Linked DNA regions of Homo sapiens: region 2 is linked to region 1. A link means that fine-mapping ties the variant in region 1 to the plasma level of a protein whose gene starts in the linked region. Region 1 holds a variant in brackets. A gene starts in the other region. All regions are shown on their forward strands.

The links. A credible set is the group of variants that fine-mapping cannot tell apart. PIP is the chance, under the fine-mapping model, that this variant and not a neighbour inherited with it causes the effect. The UK Biobank Pharma Proteomics Project read protein levels with antibody pairs (Olink). The fine-mapping took linkage between variants from a reference panel, not from the people measured, so its PIPs are less certain.
Region 2: it holds the start of PDGFC, and the variant in region 1 is the best candidate, but not a certain one, in a credible set for the plasma level of the PDGFC protein (UK Biobank, PIP 0.56).

What each region holds. Positions count from the first base shown.
Region 1 is chr9:114,324,502-114,329,668 of GRCh38, forward strand. ORM1 (orosomucoid 1) reads left to right here. Exons shown (of 6, transcript NM_000607.4): 4 at 289-396; 5 at 548-651; 6 at 1,791-1,978. The coding sequence ends at 1,856. Among named protein-coding and RNA genes, the nearest start is that of ORM2, 2.8 kb to the right of the region's middle. The variant A/C (reference allele first, on the strand shown) is at 4,718.
Region 2 is chr4:156,964,163-156,978,509 of GRCh38, forward strand. PDGFC (platelet derived growth factor C) reads right to left here and starts at 7,637. Exons shown (of 6, transcript NM_016205.3): 1 at 6,624-7,637. The coding sequence starts at 6,741. RefSeq lists an enhancer at 7,424-7,924.

The sequences.
Region 1 (5,167 bases):
CATTTAGCATCCCGAGCCTCCTCTCTGGGCCTCATTTTCCTCATCTGTAAAACGGAGAAAGGCCCTGACAGCCACGGTCTGTGTGAGGCTCCTGAGATCTCATGTACAGAAAGTGCTTGGCGTGGAGCTGGGCATGCAGCAGGGGCTGGGCACACGGTGGCCCAAAGGAGCCCTGGGCCTTCACTGATGGGCTGTGTGGCCACTGACACACCTAGGCCTCCTCACCTGTAAGACAGACACCATTGTGCCATCCCATGTTCTCACCCAGAGGCTCCTTTTCTCTTCCAGTGGGAGGCCAAGAGCATTTCGCTCACTTGCTGATCCTCAGGGACACCAAGACCTACATGCTTGCTTTTGACGTGAACGATGAGAAGAACTGGGGGCTGTCTGTCTATGGTAGGCATGCTTAGCAGCCCCAAACTCATGCCCCTCTCAGGCCTCACCCCCCATTCACCCACCCCTGGGCTGGCCCCTAGAACCCCAGCCCTCCCTGGCCTCCCGCCGGGCCCCACCATGTCCCCAGTCAGTCTCCTTGCTCCCCCTGCAGCTGACAAGCCAGAGACGACCAAGGAGCAACTGGGAGAGTTCTACGAAGCTCTCGACTGCTTGCGCATTCCCAAGTCAGATGTCGTGTACACCGATTGGAAAAAGGTAAACGCAAGGGATTGGACAGTGCCCACCTTGTCCATGGCCCAACTTGGGCAGCCCCAGAGGCCCAGAGCAGGAGAGCTGCCAGGCAAGGCTGCACAGCTAGGCAGATCTTCTGCTTTTAGGCACCTGCCTCACTGTAGGGACAGCTGAGCTCTACAGAGGCCCAGGGGTGGTGGATGAGAGCCCAGGAGGGAGAAGTCCCTGTGAAACCAGGGAGGACCTGAAAGCTAACAGGAGGGAACAGCGTGAGCCACGGGGTTGGGGGATTGGCAATTGGAGGGGACGTAATGCGGGGAGTTACCACCTACAGACGCGTCCCAAACCCCAGGCTTTCACCCCACCTCCACTCCCCACTCATTTTTAATACCCGTGCAGTGGGGAATTGATACTGTGGTTTTCAATGTCACCCACACTGCAGCACGGCCACAGTCACCATCCCGATTTTTGCTACAAATGAAAATTACTTTATAATGAGCTCCTTAACACTTTTCTTTAAACCTGTGTTTGGAAGACTTGCGTTGGTGTGGCCCTGTGCCCAATACCTGTGAAATCACAGCACCGATGAGCTGGTTCCAATTTTTAAAATATATACATGCAGTACTTCCATGACTATTCAAAGAAAAACAATTCCTTCCATTTGCCATCTGAGATGACCACCAGTGGTGTGAACTACCTCCTGCCCCCATCTGCAGTCCCAGGATCCTGGGACAGGGCTTATGAACACAACCACTGTAGTCAGCTCACCTGATCCACAGCCTGGCACCCCCACTGTCTGGCTAGGGAGCCTCGAATGGGTCCCAAGGCCACCCTGCTCCTCAGTTACATCATCTGCATAGTAGTGGTGGTTGTGAGGAATTCAGGAGCTGCAGCATAAGGGCTCGGCAGGTCCTAAGTGCACAGTAAATGCCAGTGATTCTTAAGAGTCTGAGCTCCCATTGTAGAGGCAAGTAAGCTGAGGTTCAGAGACAGAAAATGACTTGCCCAAGATCACCCAGCTGGGAAGTGACAGTGCCAGGGTTGGAGCCCTGGTTGAGCTGGTTCCACAGGCCAGAGCTCATTCTGCCCTCTCCCTGGAAGACCTCCCACCCTGTCCCCATGCCTCTGCTTCTCCCTCACCCCAATTCCCCGCTGCCTTCTAGGATAAGTGTGAGCCACTGGAGAAGCAGCACGAGAAGGAGAGGAAACAGGAGGAGGGGGAATCCTAGCAGGACACAGCCTTGGATCAGGACAGAGACTTGGGGGCCATCCTGCCCCTCCAACCCGACATGTGTACCTCAGCTTTTTCCCTCACTTGCATCAATAAAGCTTCTGTGTTTGGAACAGCTAAGCTGTTAGTCATTTGTTCATTCATTCATTCTGAAGCCTGCCCTGAGTTCAACCCTGGCTGGGCACTGGATAAGACGCTGTCCCTGGTGGGAAGAGCCCCACACGTGCCAGGATGGAGGATGACAGGCACCGAGTGCTGTGGGAGCCCAGCACTGTGGGAAGACATTTTCTTCTGCAGGGCGAAAATCTGGGAAGGCTTCCTAGAAGGGGCATCTGAACCAATCTAGAAAGATGAGGAGCATAATACAACCTGCTGTTCTGTGTACAATGTGTGATGATCAAATCGGGGTCATTTCCACCACCTCAAACATTTACCATTTCTTTGTGTTGGGAACATTATCACACAGTTCCCCATAAATATGTACATTATGTGTCCATTTAAAACAATACAAGCAAACAAATGTGAATTTCTAAACTGAGACTACTGTAAGGCCTTTCTCCTAATAGCAAGATTGTAATAAAACTTCAACTAGTCATAAAAAAAAATCCTTTTCTGTTTCTGCTGCAAGCAAGGAAATGAGAGGATGCATTTGAGTAACCTTGAGGCAGAAGACCCTAAACAGGAGTGGAGGTGTGATATTGTTTGGCTCTGTCCCCACCCGAATCTCACATGGAATTTTCAGCCCCATGTGTTGGAGGCGGGTCCTGCTGGGAGGTGATTGTATCACGGGGCTGGTTTCTAATGGTTTAGCCCCACCTCCCAGGTGCTGTTTCTCACAAGGTCTCATTGTTTAAAAGTGTGTAGCACCTCCCCCTTCGCTCTGTCTCTCCTGCTGTCTTGTGAAGAAGGGACTTGCTTCCTCTTTGCCTTCCACCATGATTGTAAGTTTCCTGAGGCCTCCCAGCCATGCTTCCTCTGAAGCCTGCGGAACTGTGAGTCAATTAAACCTCTTTTTTTCATAAACTACCCAGTCTCAGGTAGTTCTTTATAGCAATGTGAGAACAGACAAATACAAGGTGGATGGGGTGGGGAGAGTTCAGGCATGTGGTGCCTATCACAAGGACCTTATTCCAGTATTACCATGGCCATCGGGGGAGGCACGTTGTGGGGACCAGGCTGGAGGCAGGAAGGCCTGAGTGAAGGCTGCTGTGGGCAACTAGGCAAGAGGCGGTTGCCTGGGCCAGGACAGGGCAGGGCAGGGAAGGGCTGGGGTGATGCAGAGGGCTTGGGGCCCAGGCCAGAGGGGCTGGGTGTCTCCATGGACGTGTCCTCAGGGTGCTCACCTGGGAGACCCAGAAGAAGGAGACAACACGTAAGGGTGAGGCTGGTCCCTGGAAATCAGTTGACATCTTGCAAATGTGGAGCCCTGAGGTGGAGCCAAGCCCGAGGCACAGCCCACTCAGTGGCACAAGCCACGAAGGGCCGGCCTCACCCAGACCTGGGGGCTCATGATTGACAGCCTCTTGTTACGTGAGGGAAGCAGCACTCCTCCCGTGGCAGAAAAGTTGGGCCTGAGTTGTTCCATCTATTCCGTATGTGCAGCTGCGTACACCATACAGGGTGATAAGACCATGAGCCTGAGGCTCTGACACCCCAGGGTCCAGTCCTGTGTCCTCAGGCACCACTCCCCTTTGTACCTCCTGTCCCAACAGCCAAGCTCCACAGGGCCAAGACTACAGCATCCTTTGCTCAGCACCCAAACCACTGCTGTGCCCACAGCACGGAGGCTGGGGACACCGAGCTGATGTCCTCAGAAGGCAAGTGGACAGGACAGCCTCTGGGGTCCCACAGTGGCCTGGAACTGAAGGCTCAGAACCTAAAAGAAGTTTCCCCATTTCAATGTTACTTTCAGTAAGACACCATTTTCAACCATACTGAGGAGGATCCGCTGAAAAATGAAACAGAAATGAGTCGTGATGGGCAGGGCAGGGAGAAGCAAGGGAGACGAGAAGTGGGGAACATGGAAGGAAAAGCCACGTGAGGAAGAAACCAGAGGTCAAGAGAAAAAGAATCATGGAGGTAGAGGAAGCAAAAAACACACATAACAAAGAATGTGGACTTTGGAGTCAAACTAATGTGAGTCCAAACCCAGGCTCTCTCCCAAACCAGTTTGGGCAGATGGCCCAGTGGAACCTCACTCTCCTCATCAGTAAAAAGGGGGCAGAGTGAGGGTCCTGAGAGCTAGTACAGGGACTGTGTGAAGTAGACAATGCCCAGTGTTTAGCGTAAGAATCAGGGTCCAGCTGGTGCTCCCTAAACAGCAGCTGCTGTTCACTGTTGAAAGGCGCTCTGGAAGGCCAGGCGCGGTGGCTCATGCTTGTAATCCCAGCACTGTGGGAGGCCGAGGTGGGCGGATCACCTGAGGTAGGGAGTTCGAGACCAGCCTGACCAACGTGGAGAAACCCCATCTCTCCTAAAAATACAAAATTAGCCAGGCGTGGTAGCACATACCTGTAATCCCAGCGACTCGGGAGGCTGAGGCAAGAGAATTGCTTGAAACCAGCAGGGGAGGTTGTGGTGAGCCAAGATCGAGCCATTGCACTCCAGCCTGGGCAACAAGAGCAAAATGGCGAAACTCCATCTCCGAGAAAAAAAAAAAAAAGAATACTTTCTGAAAGTATTTATTCATACAAATAAAGACTTGACCCATAAGGTAGGAACGCAAATGGGCCACGGAATCACTCATTCCACAGTATACACCGAGTGCCCTTGAAGTGCTGGGCACTGCTCCAGGATTGGGGGCATATTGGTGAAAGAGAAGCAAGCTGCCTGCTCAGATGGCAGGGAATGGGGAAAAAC[A/C]GGGAGACAGTTTCCTGTTTGAGATGTTGGGAGATGCTTCGAGTAGTATATTTACTGGAAATAGACATTCAACTTGGATGTCCCTTTTTGGAAATGTGCCTGCGTCCAGGGCTGGGTTGGGGCCCCAATGAACTTTGGCTCTGACATAGCTGTTGCCACACTCAGTGGAACTGAATCCATGTTTGCCTTCACCCGGCATCCTTCACCCCAACTCTCCCCGCCACAACATACATCCCATGCCAGCCTGGGGACCCTCAAAGGTGCTTCATCATTAGGTTTGTGGCTGGGTCCTACTGAAGTAAGTCTTGGCACTCAGAGGGATAGGAATTGAATGAAGACATGAGATTCCTCTGCGGGAGGCCTCTCTAGGAAATCTGTGGACTCACACGTTTACTAATGTTGCTGCAGCCCCGCACCCACCTTGGCCTTGGGCAGCCATACTCTAGGGCT
Region 2 (14,347 bases), not on the chromosome of region 1:
TGAAATGTTAAAATTATTACCAGAAAGTTTCCTTGTGGAACCAAGCATGCCAATGTCAGCCATATTATTCATCACCATCACTGAATAAGCCAAAATATTAAAATAAACATCCTTCATCTATATACTTGCTTAAAGTACAGTTCTAACATAATGGTAACCATTATAAAGGTAGTATTTCCAGTTATTTGCCAATTTGTCAGATGCCTACAGAAACAGAAGTTATCACTATATATATATATAGTGATATATATATAACAGTATATATATAGTGATACTATATATACTGTATATATAGTACATATATATACAGTATATATATAGTGATATATATATACCATTCCATTTGACTAATGTGATTATTATGAGATTGTTTCCCTTACTGTTCCCGTAAATATTTCCGAAGCAACAGATTCTTACCTCATCTCCCAATCTGAAAACCATGCAATCCACTAACATAATAAAGAAATGCTTTTATAAAAAGTATGTGAATTTTGAAACCAGGATTCCATTTTCCTAATTGGTTCTCACATAAGGAAAAATGTATCACCACATTAGCAGTTTAATAGTGGCTGTCTAGTGGCCTTGACAAAGTCAAGTCAACTTCTGCTCTCTAGGCCTCAATCTGCACATCAGTGAGGATAAGTTCCTGGGGTCTTTCCAACTCTAACATTCCTCATACCACACATGTTGCTGAGTTCTAGCCTGTGCAAGTTATCCTTGAGCCACAGGTAAAATATAGAAAGTACACAGATTTTGGAGGCTTGTCATCTATGCAACATTTTCAAGAGTCCTTGGTCTGCATCACATGACAGTCCCCATCTTCAGAAAATGTAAGGCTATGCACAGCAATGACACTTAAAAGAGTAACCAGTTCTAGGAAACCTATCCATTTGCCTGGTACCTGCTCACTTGGTAACATAATCTTTATCAAGAGTAAAACGTGGTACTCTGATTGGCACAACCATCACTACCAATACATGAACAAGCTATCTTCCTATTTAAGAAGTCAAGTAGTGTGCAAGCTCCAAGACCAAAAAGATATCTTAAAAGATGGCCTGTTGTTAGAGTTAACAGCATAGTCTTTCTTTAATAAGATACTAACTACCTCCAGAACCTTTCAACAGATACTCATCGGGCACACTCTGCCATACCTGTCTCAGGTGCTGGAGTTCCTACAGGAAGCGATTCAAACAAGGTCCACGCTCTCAACAACTTAGATTTTATGGTGGGGGTGAGGGATGTTGGTAGATAATAAATTAATTAATTAATAAACAAGAATATCAAGGAGTATTAAGTACTACATAATTAATTAATTAACCTTGACAAGACAGTGAGGGGTGGTTAATTTAGACTTAGTGGTCAGAAAAAAGACCTCTCTGAGGAAGTGAATCATTTAATCTAGATGAAGGGAAGGTGTTATCCATGCAAGAGCAGCTGGTTAGTGTTAGCCAGAGAGGCAGGGGCAAATGACTGGAAGTTGCAATTGTATGCTGAGTGTGCCATGTCCACCATCTCATCACTCCCCCAGCCATAACCCTTGAGGAGCTAAAGCCAAAAGAGCTGCAGGAAGGGAGCTTGAAAGAAGCCATACCCCTTCTTACTCCAGGTCCTTCAAGTCATGGGTCAGGCCTGAGCTGCCAAGCAGAGAGGAAAAAAGATAGAAATTTTAACCCCAATATGAACTAAAATTGTCCACAGCTAAAAGTGTCAAAATGCTTAACAATCAGTACGGCAGGAACACTGATCGATCAGGACAGAGGCCAGCAGGGTTGCAGAAGTATCTCAGAGGCCTTAAGCAGTACCAGGCATTGGAATTTCTGCTTCATCACGTGTTGGTCCATTTGTCTTAGAGGAGTTGCACTAGTCTCTTCCCAACTCATTGGAAATATTTCAACATTTCAACATTTTGGTAATCAGTATGGAACTAACACTGGTGCATACTAAATGATTATCAAATATTAGATGTCTCCTTAGGAGATTTAAAAAATGGGAGATTTGAAAAATAAAATCATAGTTGGAGGCAGTGGTGGTGAAAAATAATACAACATACAGATTGTTTACAACTGATCTTACCCAAAAGATCAAGAAGCAACAGAGATTGCTTAATAAATGAGTTATATAGAGATTACATAGAGTTACACAGAGTTATATATTCTGATTACGTATAATGCTTCCAAATTAGAAACATGAAAATCAGAGTAAGTAAATGAAGGGACTTTATGACTTCTACCATTTTGGTTGATACAAACAGAAACCTACGGGGAAAATATCATCAGTCTTGGAAACTTTTTTTTTTTACTATGAAATTTATGAATGTCTTAATTTGTTATTACTTATTCAACATATCACTTTATCATTAGAATTTTGTTTCCACAAAGGGTGCAAAAGTTTATAGATAAAACTTAGAACCTTATCAGTCTAAAGCTTGAAAAAAACATGAAGTGGAAGCTAATATACAGAAGATATTTAAGAAATAAGTTTCAGGAAGGGTGAAATACAAGTAGACAAAGCTAAGGCTTCCGTGCCTGAGACAGAACTAGAGGTCGTAGAAGAGATGGCAGCACTGAGGGAAGTTTAATGTCCAATCCCATCCTCTATTTACAACTATTTAACAAACGATATATTAGTCCCTGAGGCTTCCTACAAACCTCTGTACTTTCTAAACACCTTTCAGTGGTAAAAGCAAAGTATATCATCCATCCAATATCTATGATTAAAATTGATATGGAAGAAAAATTACCACATAATAGAGCTTTTTAATCACCTACTGTGAAAAGACAAAATTCATCATTACATAATGGCACTGTACTTGTTCAACTTCCTCAACTATTTCAAACAGCAGAGAACCAGGAGGAAGTTTTTTCTTTTTTTTTTTTTTTGTAAAAAAGCCTTTAAACAACAAAAATAAATGTCAAAAAGGTCACGCAATAAAACTTACAGGGAAACTTACAGGAAAGTCCCTTTAGTCTGCAGTTAGAGCCTATTTACTCTTGGACACTGTTCTAAATATTGTGGTTATCTGTTTTTGATAAAACAGAGATTTGAAGCTGCCACCTAAAAATGATGGCGAGGGGACTGGGCACCTTTTTTAATTTTCCATTTTTAATTTAAATTTTGTTAGATACAGGAGCATTGACAGTAGGAAGAGAAAGCTGGCACTGATAAAAAGAGATGGAAAATCCATAAACACAAGATACCGGCAAAAGGGCACGACCAGCAGACCAAAGTAAATTGCCCCACATGCCACAAAAGCCCTTGAGAAAAAGAACACATACAATAACTGATGTTAATAAGACCAACCGTAGCGAAGAGCGGCATATTCCAAATCAAAATTCAGAATGGCTAAAGAAAATGAGAAAAAAATGATACGCATGCTCTTAATCTATGAGTAAACTAAAAATCACTCACCAACAACACAGGTAGAAGAGGCATTCCTCCACCAACAACTTTGTCATTGACATCTCTTTGTGCTGTATGCAACAGACAAAGTAGGTTTTGTTTTGTTCCTGGGTGTATGATTCTTTCTGCTACAACTCAGAAGCACCGTCCCAGAACTTAATCATTCCACAATAGGCATTCTCATCTAAAACCAGTGTGCACAAAATATGAGTATTTTTCACCATGGTCATACAACAAGTATACAGGCCAGACACCCTCCAAGCAAGTCAATGTTATCTTTTAATCTCTTTCCTCAAGTTAAATCTGAAGACTCTTGTTTTCATAAGTGAGACAGGGTCAGAAGTAAGGTTAAAAATTAAGTATAGTATATGAAGTCAACTTATAATATTAGAGGATAAAACTTTGTACAGTAAAAGTGGCAAGAATTGCAATCCAATGGTAGGTCAAAAACCAGATACCTAACAATAGTGTAAATGACACTAACCCTTCAAAGCTAATTCTGAACCATGTCCACATGATCCAGTCTAAATCCATGTATGCAGCATTGGCTACAGCAATCAATTTCCAATTCTACCTCCTCTTGAAATACCAAGTTAATATTAAAACTGAGCAGCCCGAGGTACCTGATTGAGTAATCACCATTAGGGACTTTAGAATACTCAAGAAAAGAGAGTATCATGAGGAGGGGTCCTTGGAGACAAGAATGAGCTGCTACAGTCATAATATATCAATTTGGACATTTCAGAGTTAGAGAAGACCTGTCACAAAACGATGCAATGCACAAACTGGGCCAATGGGATCTTCTACGTGGTATCCTCAAGGAGGGTTCGTATTTACAGGACTGTACAACTGTCAAAATTGAGACAGCAACAGGGCAATCAAAATTCAATCATAATTCAGTATGTGGGCAAAAGATTACCCACATAATGGAAAATTTGAAAGACAAAAAGAAGAAGAAGTAGAAGTAGTAGTAGTAACGGTAATGGTAGTAGCTCTAACAAATCTGGTTACATTCCAGGGGAATCTTCTTCAGCACCCACCTGTTACCCTCAAATCTTGAAACATTTACGTATAAAAATCAACCTGAGCATGTGCAAGAAAATAGCTCTATATTGCCCCCTAGTGCTGGCCAGTGCCACTTCTCCTTGGGCTAAAAACTACAAGTAGTTCCTCTACTTCTAGTTACTTCCTGCTGCCATCCTTAACATAGACCAACCCCCAAACATAGCCTAATCCTCTACCCACAGATTAGGAAACAAGCAGCAATTTTTAGCATCATGCATCTTAGGAATGGAAATGGCCCAGCCTCAGATGGCAACAGAATGTGTGTGGCCTGGCTTAATGAACTCATCTCTCCTGGAGGTGTGAATCTACTTGGGTAAAGTGGCCTATGACCACATGCTGCATGACAGCTCTGGGACCCTTACAAAGTGATGATAGCATGGGGATCACAAGAGAGAACTAAAAGGAAAGGACAAAGAGAAGCACAGGTCAGCAAAGAGATTCGGGCAGATGCCAAGAGAGGCTTGATAAGACAAGGCAATAGGAGAAATGATATGGGACAGGAACAATAAAAAACAGAAGCCAGGAAGCCAGGAATATTGTGCATTGTTGTCATTATGGAGGAGCTTGGCTAGTAAGAAGCAATATTTTGAACTGGACATTTATTTTACATGAGAAAGAACAAAGGTTGGTCTGATGTGTTTCCTGCACGGGTACAGCTGGTGCTGTGGCTCCTTTGATCACTTTCCCCCAGACCTCTGCAGCTACTGTGATTAGAGATACATCCCTAGGCTGCCCTTTGATCAGCAGCTCAAGGAGCCTGCAGGTGCCATGTGGCATCACATTAGCAAGTTGTAAGAAGCACCACACTAATATTAGCTGATAAATGTGATACTATGTCTTGCTGCGCAACAGCAAATACAAATAACGTTTGCAAAAGTCGGCAGAATCCTTATTTTATCTACTTTTATACCCTAAAACTTTCTGTGCTTTCTTAAACATGAACACTTCATAGAGTTTAAATTCAAAGTTGAAGTCTTGAAACACCCCAATATGAAAAGGAAAAAAAATCACTCTGACTTAAAACTATAGCACATCCTATCTTAATTTTGTAGGTATGCCACTTGTGTTCATTTTGCATGGTTAATCAAGTGACAGAATCCTTGCATTCTGAATAGATGATATACAAAGCAGTAAAAACATGTATATTCCTTTTCAAATTACAGTAAGAGCCACCATTTGTAAACAGGGCGTTAAATATTCCAATTTTAGACAGCCTAACATGAACATTGTGGTTTCATGTGCAGTATAAAATTTCTATTTACAAAGTATTCTCAAAAATGACTTCATAATGGTAGATGAAGAGAAAAAGAGTTTAGAAATTGAATGATGTAAATCATATGGGTTCAGAGGCTAAGCAAATTACACACCCTGAAGCTGCCCTGGCTTTATGAAAGGAGCCTTTCTCCAGCTCTGTGCAATCCCAGCCCAAGGGAACTTGCATCTGAGAGTTTTCTAAACATTTCAGGTACACTTGAAAGCTGAAAGTAATTCTCATTTCCTATGCAGGATTAAGTCGTTTCCAGCACACACAAAATAGCAGTCATTCACCAACACATACAAAAACACACCACCAGAAAGGTAAGGACTTCAGAGTACAAAGGCAAGTTTAAAAAACAAAAACTAGGGAGCAAGAGAAATACACTTTTTAATTCCTCTAAAAACGACCACACAGCCTCTTGACCTCTATATTTCCTATCTACTCATTGATTAATTGATGACTTCGACCTAGAGTGCTTCAATTAATGCGGCTGATATATTTCCTGACCGACCCCCCTCGCCCTCCCCAAATCTGAGTAAAGTCAAACATGCCAAGGCTCATTCATTTTGGATTCGTTTTTAGAGGCAGTTCTTGAACTTCTAACTTTAGCAATGAGCGAACCTGCAATGTGCATTTGAAATGACGTTCACAATCGCTCCCAGAATGTCCTCACTCAGCAGTGGCACTCACGTTGCCCTCTTGGAGCTTTGTGGCAGCTCCCGAAGTTGCAAACTACACTTAACCTTTAACAGTCCATGCCAATGAACGCAGCGCACATTTGCATGTAATGAGAGACCAAAGATACCTTCACAGTCTGGTATATATCACATACCAACGCACAATGCCAACGTTAACACACACAGCGAGAAACAAGCAGGGGGAGAATGGGGGAAAGACTCACCGTTCTGTTCCTTGTTGCTGGAAAACTGGAATTTACTACTCAGGTTGGATTCCGCCTGAGTCCCCTGTCTCTGGCCGGCCAGGGCAGATGTCAGCAGGAGAAGCCCGAAGAGGCTCATTTGGCTGACTGGGGTGAGAGCTCACTCACGGCGGGCACTTTGGAAGCAGCGACTCCCGAGTCTCTTTCACCACCGCCAGGGGAAGGCTGCACTGGGGTGGAAGCGCCGAGCCTGCTCTGGCAGCAGAGAATCGCAGGGTAGTTTCCACATAATCCCATCCAAAACTTTTTCCTAGAGCCCTCTTCTGTGTCTCCAGTTTTTGAAAAGGATCAAAGCAAAACCTGGACCTGAACCAGTTTCCCAAGGTTTAAACAAATCCTGAGCTGTGGCGAAGTGGTGGGGGTGGGGGTGAAGGCGAGGGAGGAATGAGGGGGTGGGGACGCGGGGGAGCGGCGAGAAGTCCCCAGCAAGTTGCTGGGAGCACCTGTCAGTTCGGGGGACAGGACAGAGGCGAAAACTCAAGGGTTGCCCGCAGCCAGACTGGAAGCCAAGTCGGCGGCGAGCAGTTTCTGATCAATAACAAAGCTGCCAATAGATGCGGCTCTCCGGGCGCCCCTCTCCCCCGCCCCACCCCCCACCCCCGAAGGGGGAGGGGGAAGAAACAAGGCGAGGGCGCCGCGGCGGGTCCCACGGGCCGGGGCGCCGGAGCGGGGCCGGGGGGCTCCGGGCCGACGGCGGCCCGGGCGCAGGCGGAGAGAGGCCGCGGGGCTCCCGCTCCTCAGCCCGGAGCGCAGTTGGCCCCGGGTTCGGAGCGCCGCAGCACGGATTCCGGCACCTGGCTTGAGTTTTCCGCGACCAAAGTTCACCTTGTTCGGGCTCGTCCCCCGCTCCTCAAAGCCTGGGGCAATTCGGCCGCTCGGGGTCACCGCGGGGCTCCGGTTGTTCCCCGTCCCCTCCCCCCACGCCTCGGGCTCCGCGCTAACCTCGGGGCTACGCGCGGCGTCTCCGCACGGGGTGAAGAGGGAAGGCCGGGGCGGCCGGGAGGATCCGGCTTGTCCCCTCCCCTTCTCTACCTTCCCCCCGCCGGGCGGCAGACAGGAGGTGGGGGCCGTGGGCCGAGCCCGGGCGGAGCGCGCGCCTGGCGAGCGGGGGCGGCTCAGCGGCTCTCCCGCAGGCGGCCGATGGGGCGGGCGGGGGTCAGCGCCTCTGGGAGGGGCAGCCCTGGGACGCGTCCGCGCGAGCGGGCTTGGCCGCCCACTGGCTGTCAACAGGTGCTGCGCAGACAGGGGGTGCTGCGGGACTCGCTGTGGGCAAGACCCCGGTGGCCCAGGAGAGGAACGCGGCCAAGGCGGCCCCTGCTTTCCCTTCCACGGAACACCTCTAACCCCAAATACAGAGCACGATGGGTGGTGAAGGGTGCTGCAGAAGTAAGTGGGAAAGAACTTCCTGCAGCTCTCCTTCTCCCGCCCCCTGTCGCCTGACTTGTCATTAGTTTCCAGGAGGGCTCCCCACTCCCTAAGGTCTTTGCTAGGACCCTTGGCCAGAGTTTCAGAACAGAAGGAAGAAGGGAAATGAATTCAAAGGCTTTCCTCCAATTTCCAGCTCCGTAAAGCAGGACAAATAAAGCAAAAGTAAAGGCAGCCAAAATAACATCCATTTAACAAGTACTATATTTACTGAATGCCTACTATGTCGGGCACTGTTTAGAGGTTGGAGCCGTAGCAGTGAAAACAGACAAAAGTCCCTGCCCTCGTGAAGCATACGTAGTAGTTGGGCAGCATTAAGCTAATAGCAAGCTCTTCTGAGAATGGTGTCTAAGGGACTCAGAATGATCCTGCAACCTTGGACTTTCCTACAATACAGCCTCTAACAAAACTAGGCTGCCCTGAACCCCTGGTGATAGAATTGTTTACATTTACACCAAAAAGGTCGAGAAAGAACTGAAATCTCTTGTGGCTTGTGTTCAGGCTGACTTGGAGAGAGAGGCCGATGCTTTAAGACCTAAAGTTCTCATGAGGTAGTCTGAAATGAAACACACATGCCAAGCAGGGCTTATGGTGGTTCCATGTCTGCTAAATATGTCTGTGACAGGATCCAACGTGCTTTCTTTGTGGAGAAGCAGAAAATCATTGTCAATGTGTTAAAGGCACAAGCAGAGAGTCAGAAAAGTTGAATTTTAAAATGAAGCTATTTTTGAGTAATAATCAAAATGAAAACAAGGAAGTGCCATGGCAGGCAAATCAGCAATATCACCCAACTTCTTGTGGAAAAAAAGTCAATGCAAACAATTCGACCATCAAGAACACTTGGGCTGGAACAGAAAACCAAAATAGCAATGTCCCTGAAACTAAGGAGTGGCATTTGGGCAAGAACATATTCTTACTGGACCAAACCAGGGGCTGATCCTTCTTCAGTGGTGAGGAAAATGCCAAGCCCTCTTCTTATATGCGAACACCAACTGGGGCCAACCAACCAGACCTTTCTGCTTGGAATATCCTAGTCTTCTTGTTTTTCCCTTTTAGAAACCTTTGAAAACTTCACCCATCTGTCTCATTCTTGAAAATTTCACCCGCCTGTCTCATTCATTCATTCTTATCCCTTTACCACTTCTATCTACAGAGTACTAAATATACACTAAAGGCAAATAAGGCCTGATCTTTGACTTTAAGGCATTTACAGTTTAGTGGACAGAAGGTTTTTTATCAAGTATGGTATTTTATTCGAGTTAGCAGCTCCACAACACCAGTGTGACTCCATATTTGCATAATGTGTTCCAAAAATATTTTGTAAATTTGTGAGGGTGAAGGGTTATTCCCAATTTTAATAACATAATGGGACTTAAATAAAGGGCATGCCTTATGAATCCATTGTAATCTATTTTTCATAAAATTCATTATTCTCCAGTTTTTCTAATTTTGTAAGTTTAGTTTTCTAATCAGCACTTTTCTAAATGAAATTGTTATATGTCCATATAGTTGAGTTTCCTGACCACCCACATAGAGGTGGGGTGTGTGTGTGTGTGTGTGTGTGTGTGTGTGTGTGTGTGTCTGCAAATGTAATCCATTTGCTCTCAGGAGATTGGAAGGGTGATGACTACTCTTTATTTTGTATCATTTCATATTGGCTAGAATATTGCTTGGCACAGGGGGATAATAAATAAACACTCTTGACTGACTGACAGGTTTCTTTATTGGAGTCACTTACATTCTCCCTGGAATTTCAGTGCGATAGTTGTATTTGAAAAGTTACAGATGATCTAGAATAATACTCTACCTCTGCGTTTCACCTCATCCATATTCTACAGATTGATTTGACAATCGCCTTATAAATAAAGTCAGCCAGGTGTTCCTGAATGACCCCTAGACAAAATCACATCCACATTGGCCAATTTCCTTTCAATGTACTTGCATTGTCATTTCTTGAACTGCTCTTGCCCTTGACGTAGTTGATTCTTTTAACACATTATCCTCTGCCTGTCTTCCTGCTCTATTTTGCTTGTTAACCTTTTCTAGAAAAATGAAATCTTTGCATTGAAAGTAAATTTTATATAATCCAGAGTCTGTGCAATTACTAAACAATATATTTTAAATGAATATGGCTTTGTTTTGGCCAAAGGCATTTTCCTTGATGAAAGGCATCTGTTCCGCCAACCAAGAGAAAATAATTTCAGACATTCTTTGTGGTTTTCATGTTTTCTTAAACCTTAAGAAGGAGTGCCCATTGCTGCTGCATGCATGAAGAGTATTACCACAAATTCTTACTAAAGAATACACTTGGTGGTTAACAATGATAATTTGGGGGAGGGGGTGTCACTACTAAATGTTTTTAAGTGAAATAAGATTTTAAAGCAACCTACTCCTTTAGCTAGCCACTTAACACTCAAAGGGGCGGGAACCATGGGGACATATTTTTGCCACCAAAAAAAAAAATCTACGTTTTCTTGCTCTTTATTTTTCTGTTTTGATCCTAACACACACACACACGTGCATGCACACACACACAGAGGCATATGTGCAAAGTTATTTTAAGACTTTTCCTGGAACATTTCAGTATTTTAGTGGCAGATAATTGAGCATGATTTCCTGAAGTTCAGAAAGCTTTCTTCTACCTAAATACTCATTGTGTATTGAGAATGGCTGACAAGTAACAAATATATATATATATATATATATATATATATATATATATATATATATATATATATATGGCAGGACTGGAGATATCATTAGTAGTCAAAGTAAACGTCCACAGACCACAGCAGGAATAAAGACTGTGTTAGGAAAAAAAGAAATAAATAAATAAATGAAGTCAGTAGTCTGTCTTAGAGTCATCCTCTTCTCTTTCCACTTTTCCCACTACCTCATCTTGAGAAATACGACCTTGCTATCTCTAGGTTATGAAGATATATATCAATACTCTGTTTTTCCAACCAAGAAATGAGACACTTTTCATTACATTTTATTCTTCTAGCATCAGGTAACTTTTACCTCCCCAGTGTATCAGCTGCTAATCTGAGAAGGGTTTACCTGCTGAGGCTGAGGGTAGAGGGTTTTGCTAAGGCTCTGCTCTAGAAGAAGACACACTTTGTCAGTCTGACTTTCCTGGGGAATGGATCTGGAGGATGGGGAGTTAAGAGAAGTGTGACCTGCAGAAATGGACTTTAGTTGGCTCTCTGTGGCCTTTTCCTTTGAAGTAAAGCTGCTATTTCCTTATTGAAATCTAAGATTTTCCAAAATCTTAGAAGTGTTTGTCTGACTCTGAACTCAGAGGGAGTAACTAGCCAGAAACAGCCGTAAAGAAAGAGAAGCCCTAGTAACCTTTGAACCACCACAACAAAAGATCATTTCACTGGGAGATGGGAGGTCAGGGGCTTAGTCTGGCTTTACCACTAATAAACAGTACAACCTTGATCTAGAAATCTTCTCTGCCCCTCAGTTTCCTTTTCCTTACATGAGGAATCGCCACTGGCTTCTGTCTTGATCCCCCTACTGCTTTAGAAATTCTCTGAGCTATTATAGATAATGATGGCAAGACTTTTTCATCTTCAGTGTGCTTCTGTGATAAAAAATTACTAGCACAAGTTTCCTAGCCTCATATCAGAGATGTCTTCGTGGCTGGCAAAAGAGATAATGAACAGGTTCTTCTTTCTAAACTTGCTCAACTAGAGCAGTACTATTGTATCTGTTATTGCCATAGTTTGAAAAACCAAGCTCTAATGGTAATCAAAAAGAAGAGGGGACAGAGTTTGGAAATCACTGGCTAGGGCAAGTATACAGGAATATCATGGAATTCAAGGAAACCAAATAAATCCCCAGGCCTTCAATAGGTGCAGGTATTCATATTTTACTTTTCAATATTTGGTTGTTATCATGCTAACAGCCTCGAAAGAGGCAAAGTGCAGTCCTAAGCGGAGTGTCAAGGTAAAAAGAAATAGCTATTGTACATAACTGAGTTGTAAACACTAAGGAAATAATATTGTTGTTAGCCAAGAACAGATGGTCAAACTCATACTGTTCTATTGAGTCACACTGGTGGAATGTGAAACAATCTGGAGAGCAAGGGGTATCCCCTAAGAACATGGACAGCAACACTATCTTTGTCCATATCTTAGAGTCAATAAGGTGTCATTTTTCTCTCTCTTGAAATCATTTGTAGGATATGAAGGCTGTTGTCCCCATTGTGACAAATCATAGTAAAGAGGTCAAGACACAGCTACAGACCCTCCTTTCTCAGATAGTGACCTTCTTATTTCAAAGGTCATGGGAGAAGGAGCCTTTCACTTTGTGATCATTGTTTCAAATGCAGTCCTTTCCTTGGCTACTAGCCTTTGTAAAAGAGGTGGATAGTCTCAGCCCACTACTTAACAGTGAACATCAAAAAGTATTGCTGGCTGGCTAGAAGAAAGGAAAATATGGCTTAACTAATCTAATATTAAAAGTATCCTCAACTGCTTTTGAAGTTCAAGATAGATCAACAGACCCCCCTTTCTATTATGATTATTACTATTTGCTTTCCTTATCATCTTTGCAGTAATAAATCTGCTTGTTTTCTTTTAAAGCAGACTTGCAACACTCTTAAGGGATCATTTTCTTTTCCCAAATTTTGTTTTTATCAGCACAATTTCCCTTTGTGTTTCCCTCATCCTCTGTACCACCTTCTCTTCTTTCTCATCATCTAAATCTTCTTTGAATTGTCCTACAAGAAATTAGGAGGACAAAAAGCCATGTTTTCCTCTTGCAGGCTACTCAAAAAGATTTATAGTTATACCAAGGCAAACCAAGGAAAATTAAAGTGAGGGGAGAATTACTTTTGCTTAAATTTATCTTTAAAAGCACCTACTATGTCCCAGGAACTGTAGATTCATTAAAATATATTAATATTTTCTCATTTAATCTTCCAGCTTCTCCTTTAAGGAAGGTCATAGGTTTCCCATTTTACGGCAGAGAAACTGAACCTTAAAGATGGCATTAATTTTCCCAGAGTGACAATATTAATGACAGGTAGAGTTAATATTTAACTCCAGGTCTTCTCCTTTTACTCCTTTTCAATTTGACACCTTTAAGCCCTGGACTTTGGACAAAAACATCTTACCTGAAGCTTTCTTACATTTCTCTTCTAAGTTTTCTTCACAATGACTGAATGTCTTCCCCTATGTTTAACCTGAGGTGTTCAAGAATACTACTACAACATTACACAGCTATCTGACTGGACAGCCTAAATAAAATGTTTGAGTCAAAATGAATATGGGTTACCCGAGGCAGTGATAGTGACTAAGGCCTCGGGCAGCTAGCCTTGGGGTTGAAGCCCACCCAAGGCGTGGGCTAGCGGGAGTATCCTGTTTATCCTGGCCAACGTTAGTCATCCGGCCAATGTCTAAGCCTAGACCATCTGTGGGCAGTTATTTCAAAGAATCTATCTCCTTGTCTTTGAGGACAAAGGGAGTGAATTATCATTCCTCTTTTTCTACTCATGATTGCTACTGAATTGAAGCATCATGGCTAGGAAGAAATATGCTGTTTTCCCAGTTACTCCCTTTGAAGAATCAATTTGTGATTAGCTATAGATGTCAGAATCTAGACCTTTCTTATATATGTAATTCCTATAGACATCCTTCCACATGTTTCTAATTTAAAATACTTAGTCCAAGAGTTTTTTAAGTGGCATGGTGAGGCAAATTTGCATCCCTATTGATAATTTTACAAAGGTATTTTAGATTAGTTGGAGTTATTCAAAGCACAAAGACTGCTGCATGAAGGGACTAGTGACTTGTTAAGCCCTCAGGCAAGCAAAAGTCTTCAATTGAAATTCTAATTCCATAGATACATTCCATTTGTATTTGAAGGGGTATACCATATGAAAAGACCCTATGGTGCCATTTTTGTCCCACTGGACAGCAAGTGGAAAAAATTCTTTACATTTATTTCCTTCATAAATGGCTTTTAAAACACACGTAAAACTAAATAGAAAAATGTGGACACAGCTAATTGCCATAGCTCCTATTATTTATTTTTATTGAGGTAAATTATTATGTACTATGCGTCAGTAAAAACAGTACTTTAGGAAGTCAATGCACTTCGTAATATTCTTTCTTTCTGTCTATCTGGATTTCCATCAGAAGATTATTATCACTGTATACACCCACATCCAGCATGCCTAACTTGCTAACGGGAAGAAATTTCTCATTTTTCAGAATCTATTTAGTCTGGTATACAAATTAACTATTGCC